Regions from separate parts of the Homo sapiens genome. Here region 1 is linked to region 2. Evidence: fine-mapped expression QTL. A gene starts in region 2. The other region holds a variant in brackets. All regions are shown on one strand. Distances are from middle to middle.

Region 1 (4,524 bases), 110 kb after region 2:
AATTATAACACATCTTAGCAGATTCCACTTCAGGTTGTACTGAATTTCAAATTCTTTGAAAATATTCTCACATGTACTTATTCCATAGAGACTACTCTTTGAAGCTAATTCTTCAGTCACTTCCAACTTAACATTGCTCATTGAATAAACAACTTAACAGTTTTGCTAACATCCATCACCTTTTTAACAGTCAAAGACATACAGATGAAAAACAAGAAAAGTCTCCAGAAATAAACACCTCTCATTTATAAGTAGTTGATATTGAACAAGAATTCTTTTTTTTTTTTTTCGGAGACAGAGTCTTGCTCTGTCACCCAGGCTAGAATGCAATGGTGTGATCTTGGCTCACTGCAACCTCCGCCTCCCATGTTCAAGCGATTATCCTGCCTCAGCTTCCTGAGTAGCTGTGATTACAGGTGCCTGCCACCACACCTGGCTAATTTTTGTATTTTTAGTAGCAACAGGGTTTCACCATGTTGGCCAGGCTGGTCTCGAACTCCTGACCTCAGGTAGTCTACCTGCCTTGGCCTCCCAAAGTGTTCAGATTACAGCATGAGACACCTCGCCCGGCCCAATGTTCAACAAAATTTCTAAGACAATTTAATCCAATCGCCACTGCACCCAATGACAATTTAGTTTGTTTGTTTGTTTGTTTTTGCAACAGAGTCTCGCTCTGTCGCCCAGGCTAGAGTGCAGCGGTGTGATCTCGGCTCACTGCAAGCTCCACCTCCCAGGTTCACGCCATTCTCCTGCCTCAGCCTTCCGAGTACCTGGGACTACAGGCACCCGCCACTACTCTCCCGGCTAATTTTTTGTATTTTTAGTAGAGACGGGGTTTCACCGTGTTAGCCAGGATGGTCTCAATCTCCTCACCTTGTGATCCACCCACCTTGGCCTCCCAAAGTGCTGGGATTACAGGCGTGAGCCACCACGCCCGGCCCCTGACAATCCAGTTTTTAAAAAATGGTCGCTGGGCACAGTGGCTCATGCCTGTAATCCCAGCACTTTGGGAGGCTGAGGCTGGCGGATCACCCGAGGTTGGGAGTTCGAGACCAACCTGACCGACCAAGATGGTGAAACCCCGTCTCTACTAAAAATACAAAAATTAGGTGGGCGCCGTGGTGGGCGCCTGTAATCCCAGCTACTCAGGAGGCTGAGACATGAGAATAGCTTGAACCCGGGAGGCGGAGGTTGCAGTGAGCCGAGATCATGCCATTGCGCTCTAGCCTGGGCAACAGAGTGAGACTGTCTCAACAACAACAACAACAACAGCAAAATAAAAAATAAAAAATTTTTTTTAAAAAATGGTCAAAGGGGCCAGGCGCAGTGGCTCACACCTGTGATCCCAGCTCTTTGGGAAGCCGAGGCCAGTGGATCACGAGGTCAGGAGTTCGAGACCAGCCTGGCCAACACAGTGAAACCCCATCTCTACTAAAAATACAAAAATTAGCCAGGTGTGGTGTTACGCCTGCAGTCCCAGCTACTCAGGAGGCTGAGGCAGGGAAATCACTTGAACCCAGGCAGTGGAGGTTGCAGTGAGCCAAGACTGTGCCATTACACTCCAGCCTGGCTGACAGAGCGAGACTCCATCTCAAAAAAAAAAAAAAAAAAAAAGGTCAAAGGGCCACAGCACTTTGAGAGCTGAGGTGGGTGGATCACCTGAGGTCAGGAGTTCAAGACCAGCCTGGCCAACATGGTGAAACCCGTCTCTACTAAAAATACACAAATTAGCTAGGCGTGGTGGTGCACGCCTGTCATCCCAGCTACTTGGGAGGCTGAAGCAGGAATTCGCTTGAACCCAGGACATGGAGGTTGCAGTAAGCTGAGATCACGCCACTGCACTCCAGCCTGGGCGACAGAGCAGGACTCCATCTCAAAAAATAAAAATGAAAATAAATAAAAAATGGCCAGAGGATCTCAAAAGACATCTTTCTTTTCTTTCTTCTTTTTTTTTTCTTTTCAGACAGAGTCTTCTCACTCTGTTACCCAGGATGCAGTACAAGTGGCATGATCTTGGCTCAC[C/T]GCAGCCTCCATCTCCTAGCTTCAAGTGATTCTTGTGCCTCAGCCTCCAGAGTAGCTGTGACTACAGGCGTGCACCACCACGACCGGCTAATTTTTACATTTTTAGTAGAGATGGAGTTTCACCATGTTGGCCAGGCTGGTCTCAAACTCCTGACCTCAAGTGATCCTCTCGCCTTGGCCTCCTAAACTGCTGGGATTACAGGGGTGAGCCACGGTGTCTGGCCCTCAGTAGGCATCTTTCCAAAGAAGGTATACAAATACAAATGACCACTAAGCACATAAGAAGATACTCAACATTATTAACCATCAGAGAAATGCATATCAAAACAGTGAGGTATCACTTTATGCCCCCTAGGATGACTACGATCAAAATGACAGATACTTGATTTTGATTATAGTACTAGTGTCTTAGTCTGTTTGTATTGCTATAAAGGAATATCTGAGGCTAGGCAGTTTATAAAGAAAAGAGGTTTATTTTGCTCACAGTTTTACAGGCTGTACAGGAGGCATGGTGCTGGCATCTGTTAGGCTTTTGGTGGGGTCCAACGGCTGTTTCCATTCATGACAGAAGGCAAAGGGGAACCAATGTGTGCAGAGATCACATGTTAAGAGAGGAATCAAGGGAGCAGGGGAAGTGCCAGGCTCTTTTAGAAACCAGCTCTTGTGTAAACTAATAGAGTAAGAACTGACTCACTCCCTGACCAGTGAGGTGATTAATTTATTCATAAGGGATCCACCCCTATGACCCAAACACCTCCCAGTAGGCCCTACATCCAACATTGGGGATCAAATTTCAATATGAGGCTTGGGGATACGAGCATCCAAACTATACTAGTTGTGAAGATGTGGAGAAATTGGAATGCTTATAGATTGCTAGTGGGTTTACACTGTAAAATGGTATAGCTGCTTTGGAAAAGAGTCAGTTCCTCAAAACACTAGATCCAGAAATTCCACTCCTGATAATATACCTAAGTTAACATGTGATCCAGAAATTCCACTTCTGAGTATACACCTAAGAAAATTCAAAACATATTTTCACACAAAAACTTGTACATGAATGTTAACTGCAGCATTATTCAAAAAACCAAAACGTAGAAAACAACCCAAATGTCCTTCAACTGATGAATCCATAATGAAATTGGTATGTACATACGAAATATTATTTGGTAATAAAAAGAAATGAATTACTGATATATGCTACAATATGAACAAACCTTGAAAACATTATGCTGAGTGAAAAAAGCCAGCCACAAAGGAAAATATATTTTATGATTCCCTTTGTATGAAATGTCCACAATAGGCAAATCTATAGAGACACAAAGTAGATTAGTGGTTGCCTATGGCTGGGTGGTTGGGGGGTGGACACTGGAAATGGGTAATGACTGCTAATGGGTACAGGGTTTTGTTGTTGTTGTTGTTTTTGTTTTGAAACAGAGTTTTGCTCTTGTCGCCCAGGCTAGAGTGCAATGGTGCAATCTCAACTCGCTGCAACCTCCGCCTCCAGGGTTCAAACGATTCTCCTGCCTCAGCCTCCCGAGTAGCTGGGATTACAGACATCCACCATCACGCCCAGCTAATTTTTGTATTTTTTAGTAGAGACAGGGTTTCTCCATGTTGGTCAGGTGATCCACCCGCCTTGGACTCCCAAAGTGCTGGGATTACAGGCATGAGGCACTGCGCCCAGCTAGGGTTTCTTTTCATGGTGATCAGAATATTCTAAGATTTATTCTGGTGGGCCAGGCACGTTGGCGTACACCTGTCATCGCAGCGCTTTGGGAGGCCAATGCAGAAGGATCCCTTGAGCCCAAGAGTTCCCGAGCAGCGTGAGCAATACAGCAAGACACTATTGCTACAAAAAAAAAAAAAAAAATTAGGCCAGGCACGGTGGCTCACACCTGTAATCCCAGCACTTTGGGAGGCCGAGGTGGGTGGATCACCTGAGGTAACGAGTTCAAGACCAGCCTGACCAACATGGTTAAACCCCATCTCTACTAAAAATACAAAATTAGCCATGCATGGTGGCACATGCCTGTAATCCCAGCTACTTGGGAGGCTGGGGAAGGAGAACTGTTTGAACCCAGGAGGCAGAGGTTGCAATGAGCCAAGATCACGCCATTGTACTCCAGCCTGGGCAACAAGAGCGAAACTCTGTCTCAAAAAAAAAAAAAAAATTAGTCGGGCATGGTGGTGCGTGCCTGTGATCCCAGCTACATAGGAGGCTAGGGTAGAAGATCTCCTGGGCTTAGGGAGGTCGCAGCTGCAGTGAGCCATGATCATGCCACTGCACTCCAGCCTGGGCAACAGAACGAGTCCTTGTGAGTGTTTCAAGAGACAAAGCAGAAGCTGTAATGCCTCTTATGACCTCACCTCTGAAGTCACACACTGTTATTCTTGTACTATTCTATTGGTCACATAGGTTATCTCTGATTCCATATGGAAAGGGACTATATAAGGTCATAAGTAACTGGAAATTATTATCATTGGGAACCATCTTAAAGGCTG
Region 2 (4,000 bases):
ACTTCTATTGGATTTAGGAATCCCTTCCTTGGTAGCATATGTCTTATAGAGCTTCTTCATGTAGTGCAAAGCTCTGGAGTCTGGCTGCAGCCTAGGTGACCCACCTCGCCCAACAGATAGAACTTTGAAAAGCGCGGGAAGGAGGCCAGCTCTGTCTCTCTCATCTATATGCTGCAGCAAGGACCAAGGCATAGCCCCAGATTCCAACTCAGCACTAGCAGCAATCTGAGCTTCTCCCCCAGAAGCCTGAGAACCAAGGCTAATAGGAAAACACAGCCAGGCAAAGCAGCAAAACCAAAGGAGGAATTTGTTGGGACGTGCCATGGCTTGGGAGAACTAGTGAGGAACATATTTCTCCATGCCAGTCCTCTTCCTAAAGGCCAGGAAGAGCCTAGCTTGGTCTCTTAAATAAATTTCAGGTGTGTGGGTGGACTACGGTCACTTCTGTAATCAGGCCTCAAGTATGCCTAGCTGAAGATTTTATCAGCTCTATATCAAGCAGCTGATAACACCTTATTTAGCCAATTTGTTAATTAGATACAGATTTACTTGGTTATTTAGCTTTCCTCTCTTTTCCCCTGGCATTTACGTAAAACCCGTTACTGTTACACTACCGGACTAACTATGTAGCTGAAAGTCTAAGATAAATTGAGGAATGATCTTAAATAAAATCTCTCATTTTTTGAGAAATTTGGATTAAGATGTTCGCTAGGTGCTTGCTGAAACTTCTAAGGCATGTGGAAAAGCTAACCAATTATTCATGACGATACTCAGATCTGCTGGTATGCAACTTATGGTATTAGGTTTACTCTTCCTCTCAATTTATCCTCACGGCCTTTTCCACTTCCAGGTGTTTACAATTGTAATTATTCGCTGCATGTTAATTTGCGAATTTACAAATTTGGGTGAGAAAGTCACAATTGGCATAGAAGTTCCAGAAAGCAGAAAACCATTAGGTCTCTCAGTCCTCCCAGGTGGCTGGGTACAGAATACGTACTTGGAGTACTGGAATTGTATTTGCGATGTTCTTAAAAGAGGACACCGCCTTTAACCTTGACTTATTTTTAAATGTAACATACTGATGTCCTTACTTTGGTCTGCACACTCATCTATACATATTTTGGTTGAAAGGTTTTGGGATGTTTGCAGATGCTATAAAATAAATGAACGTTTTATTATTATTCATCCAAATGGTGGTAGAATTTGCCACAATATTTCTGTCCTTACCTGTATTTCTGTTCTTGCCTTGGAGCTGAGACCAGGCTAGACATTATGGTTTAAAAAAATGAGGCAAAGGAGCACCATGAAAAGCTGAAATGAGGGGATATTCAGCGCCACCCCGAAGGAGACTATGCTGGAAGAGTCAGCCTACACTCATAGTGCAAGATACGAAGCCAGTTTGTGCAGTACCTACATGAGAAAACTAAGGTATGTCTGCAAAATACAAGTTGACTGCCTGCCGAGCCTCCGTGGTCCGTAAGTAGTGTTATAAAACACAGCCAACTGTTGAATGAGAGCTTAGTCCTAGATAAAATATGGCCAGCAATTCCATTAACAAAACACTGACAAGACACCTCAGGGCGAGCTGTACATTGACAACAGCATCGTCAAGCAGAATGCACTTCAGGGAAAACATAATAAGGCCTCTCACCCGACTTTCCTTGCTTCTCACGTGGGGAGAAGAAAGAACTGGGGCATCGTGATTCCCCCCACCCCACGCAAACCATCTGGGGAGGACGCTGGCTGCTGTCGAGGCGGCCTCAGCATTCATCAATTGACGATTATTTGATTATTTTTGTGGCTGAAACTGACGAAACGTTTGTATTATCTCTTGGGAACGTTAACAGCCTGCCAGGGGACTCTAAAACAGAGTCCAAGAGAAGCCTTCGATGTGTGTCCCTGATTTTGGTGCTGGGGTCGCTCATGGCCTGAAAATAACGAAGCCCCCTTTGAGCTACTGGCCAAGGCCAAATGAAACCTCGTGCTCCTCTGCTGTGGGGCGGCCCGGCCTCGGGGCTCAGAGGCGCTCTGTCTACAGCTGGGAAGACTCGCAGGCCCCAAGCTCCTGGCCAGCGCTGCCCCGGAGGTCGGCAGGCCCCTTCCTCGTCACCTTTTTGTTCCCTCCCCCGCCTCCCGCATTCGGCCGCTTCCTGACTGGGATTCCACAGAAAAGCCGAGGGCTGAGGAGAAGTGTGAGCGCCTCCGCCTGTCCACTGTCCCCCAAAGTCAGTTCAATCCCCGACGTCCTCCGCTAGGCTCCACCCCACCGGCCCGGGCAGGGCCTCCAAGGCACCTCCCACCTACGGGTCACCCAGTCAGCCCACTTCTTTCTGGGACAAAGGCGTCATCCCTTAGAGACAGTAGGAAAATGGTATCTCCCGGAAGTTACCTCACGACCTCCAAGAGCGGCTTCCAACCTTGCCGGAAATGACGAACGAGTCAACCGGATCGGTGACTGTGGAGGGCGAGCTGAGCCCTGTGCGTGAGTGGGGTCTGGTTGTGCAGTGTTCGTGGACCCTGGGAGGCTAGGGGCGCCCCGCTGGGCTGGGAAAGGATAAGGAGTGCAGGGGCAGGAGTCTGGGGTTGGGGATGGACCCCCGCGGGGACTGCGGCGCTTCGCGAAAGCGAGCCAAGCGCCTGTCCACCCTCGGTCCTGCAGGGCCGCCGCCACAATGGGCCGCGAGTTTGGGAATCTGACGCGGATGCGGCATGTGATCAGCTACAGCTTGTCACCGTTCGAGCAGCGCGCCTATCCGCACGTCTTCACTAAAGGAATCCCCAATGTTCTGCGCCGCATTCGGGAGTCTTTCTTTCGCGTGGTGCCGCGTGAGTGCCTTGGGCCCGCGGGAGCGGGAGGCTGGACCCCAGCAGCAGCAGCAGTCACTGCGCCTCCCCTCTGAGCGCTGGCGGCCGGGCAGGCGCTCTGTAACTTGCCGTACACACCTTTCTCATTGAATATTCCTGACCGCCCTTAAGCTGGTCATATTATCCTCCCCATCTTACACGGGGAAAACTGAGCTACAGAACTGAAATGACTGGCCCAAGGTCACTCGGGTGATTCCAGCATGTTCCTCTGAGGTCACCTTTATTTAGTTCTTACCAGTGGTGAAATGCTTTGTGTTAAACGTGCAGCAGATAGTGATGATAGTTGCATGGCCTTGGATATGCTAAGAACTACTGAAGTGTATGCTTTAAAGAAGACAAGAGGACTGAGACCTTTTTTTTTCTTCTATATGTCTTATATGTGTGCTCTCTGTTTACTCTCTTAATTTTTAAAGAGTTTGTAGTGTTTTATCTTATCTACACATGGGGGACTGAAGAGTTCGAGAGATCCAAGAGGAAGAATCCAGCTGCCTATGAAAATGACAAATGAGCAACGCATCCGGATGACGGTTCCCTGTCTCTGAAAGACCTTTCTCTGGAAGAGGAGTCTGCATTGTAGTGTCTCAAAGACACAATAAACTTCCTATGGTCTGCACTGTTGTGATATTACATTTTTGTGAGTAGAATCCTGTGTGACCACTAATATTCAAGTTCATGAAGCGCCCCTCCTCAGCATGAGTCTTGAAGTTTTGCCTGGTCTCGGGTTTTGGTGAAAGAGCAGGGCTCCCCCTTTGTTCCATTATCTACAAGAAAGTAGCTGCAGGTACTCCTGCATCTAACCATTTGTGGGTGACATGGGCTATGGCGAGTGCTGGTTCTTGGCCCTCTGCTCCCATAGCAACAATAAAGTCTACTAACTATATTGTAATTAGTATGTGTCAGGGACGCTTTTATTTTTTATTTTTTGAGATGGAGTCTTGCTCTCTCACCCAGGCTGGAGTGCAGTGGTGTGATCTCGGCTCACTGCCATCTGTGCCTCCTGGGTTCAAACGATTCTCCTGTCTCAGCCTCCGAGTAGCTGGGATTACAGGTGCAGGACACCACACCTGGCTAATTTTTTGTATTTTTAGTAGAGACAGGTTTCACCATGTTGGCCAGGCTGGTCTGGAACTCCTGA

Which allele goes with the higher level. Positions count from the first base shown, and alleles are read on the strand shown. Sizes are in standard deviations (SD) of each study's normalised expression.
In carriers of allele C in region 1, the expression in left ventricle of the gene that starts at base 2,260 in region 2 tends to be higher than with T alone (small effect, 0.38 SD a copy in GTEx).

The links. PIP is the estimated chance that this variant, and not a neighbour inherited with it, causes the effect. A credible set is the group of variants that fine-mapping cannot tell apart.
Region 1: its variant is the best candidate, but not a certain one, in a credible set for the expression of GDF9 in left ventricle (GTEx, PIP 0.70).

Annotation. Positions count from the first base shown.
Region 1 is chr5:132,977,056-132,981,579 of GRCh38, forward strand. No RefSeq gene overlaps it. Among named protein-coding and RNA genes, the nearest start is that of AFF4-DT, 16 kb to the left of the region's middle. The variant C/T (reference allele first, on the strand shown) is at 2,023.
Region 2 is chr5:132,864,210-132,868,209 of GRCh38, forward strand. It overlaps GDF9 (growth differentiation factor 9), which reads right to left and starts at 2,260. Exons shown (of 2, transcript NM_005260.7): 1 at 1-2,260. The coding sequence starts at 324. It overlaps UQCRQ (ubiquinol-cytochrome c reductase complex III subunit VII), which reads left to right and starts at 2,433. Exons shown (of 3, transcript NM_014402.5): 1 at 2,433-2,478; 2 at 2,660-2,826; 3 at 3,279-4,000. The coding sequence starts at 2,673. The coding sequence ends at 3,373. RefSeq lists enhancers at 1,712-2,911, 1,770-2,270, 2,271-2,771.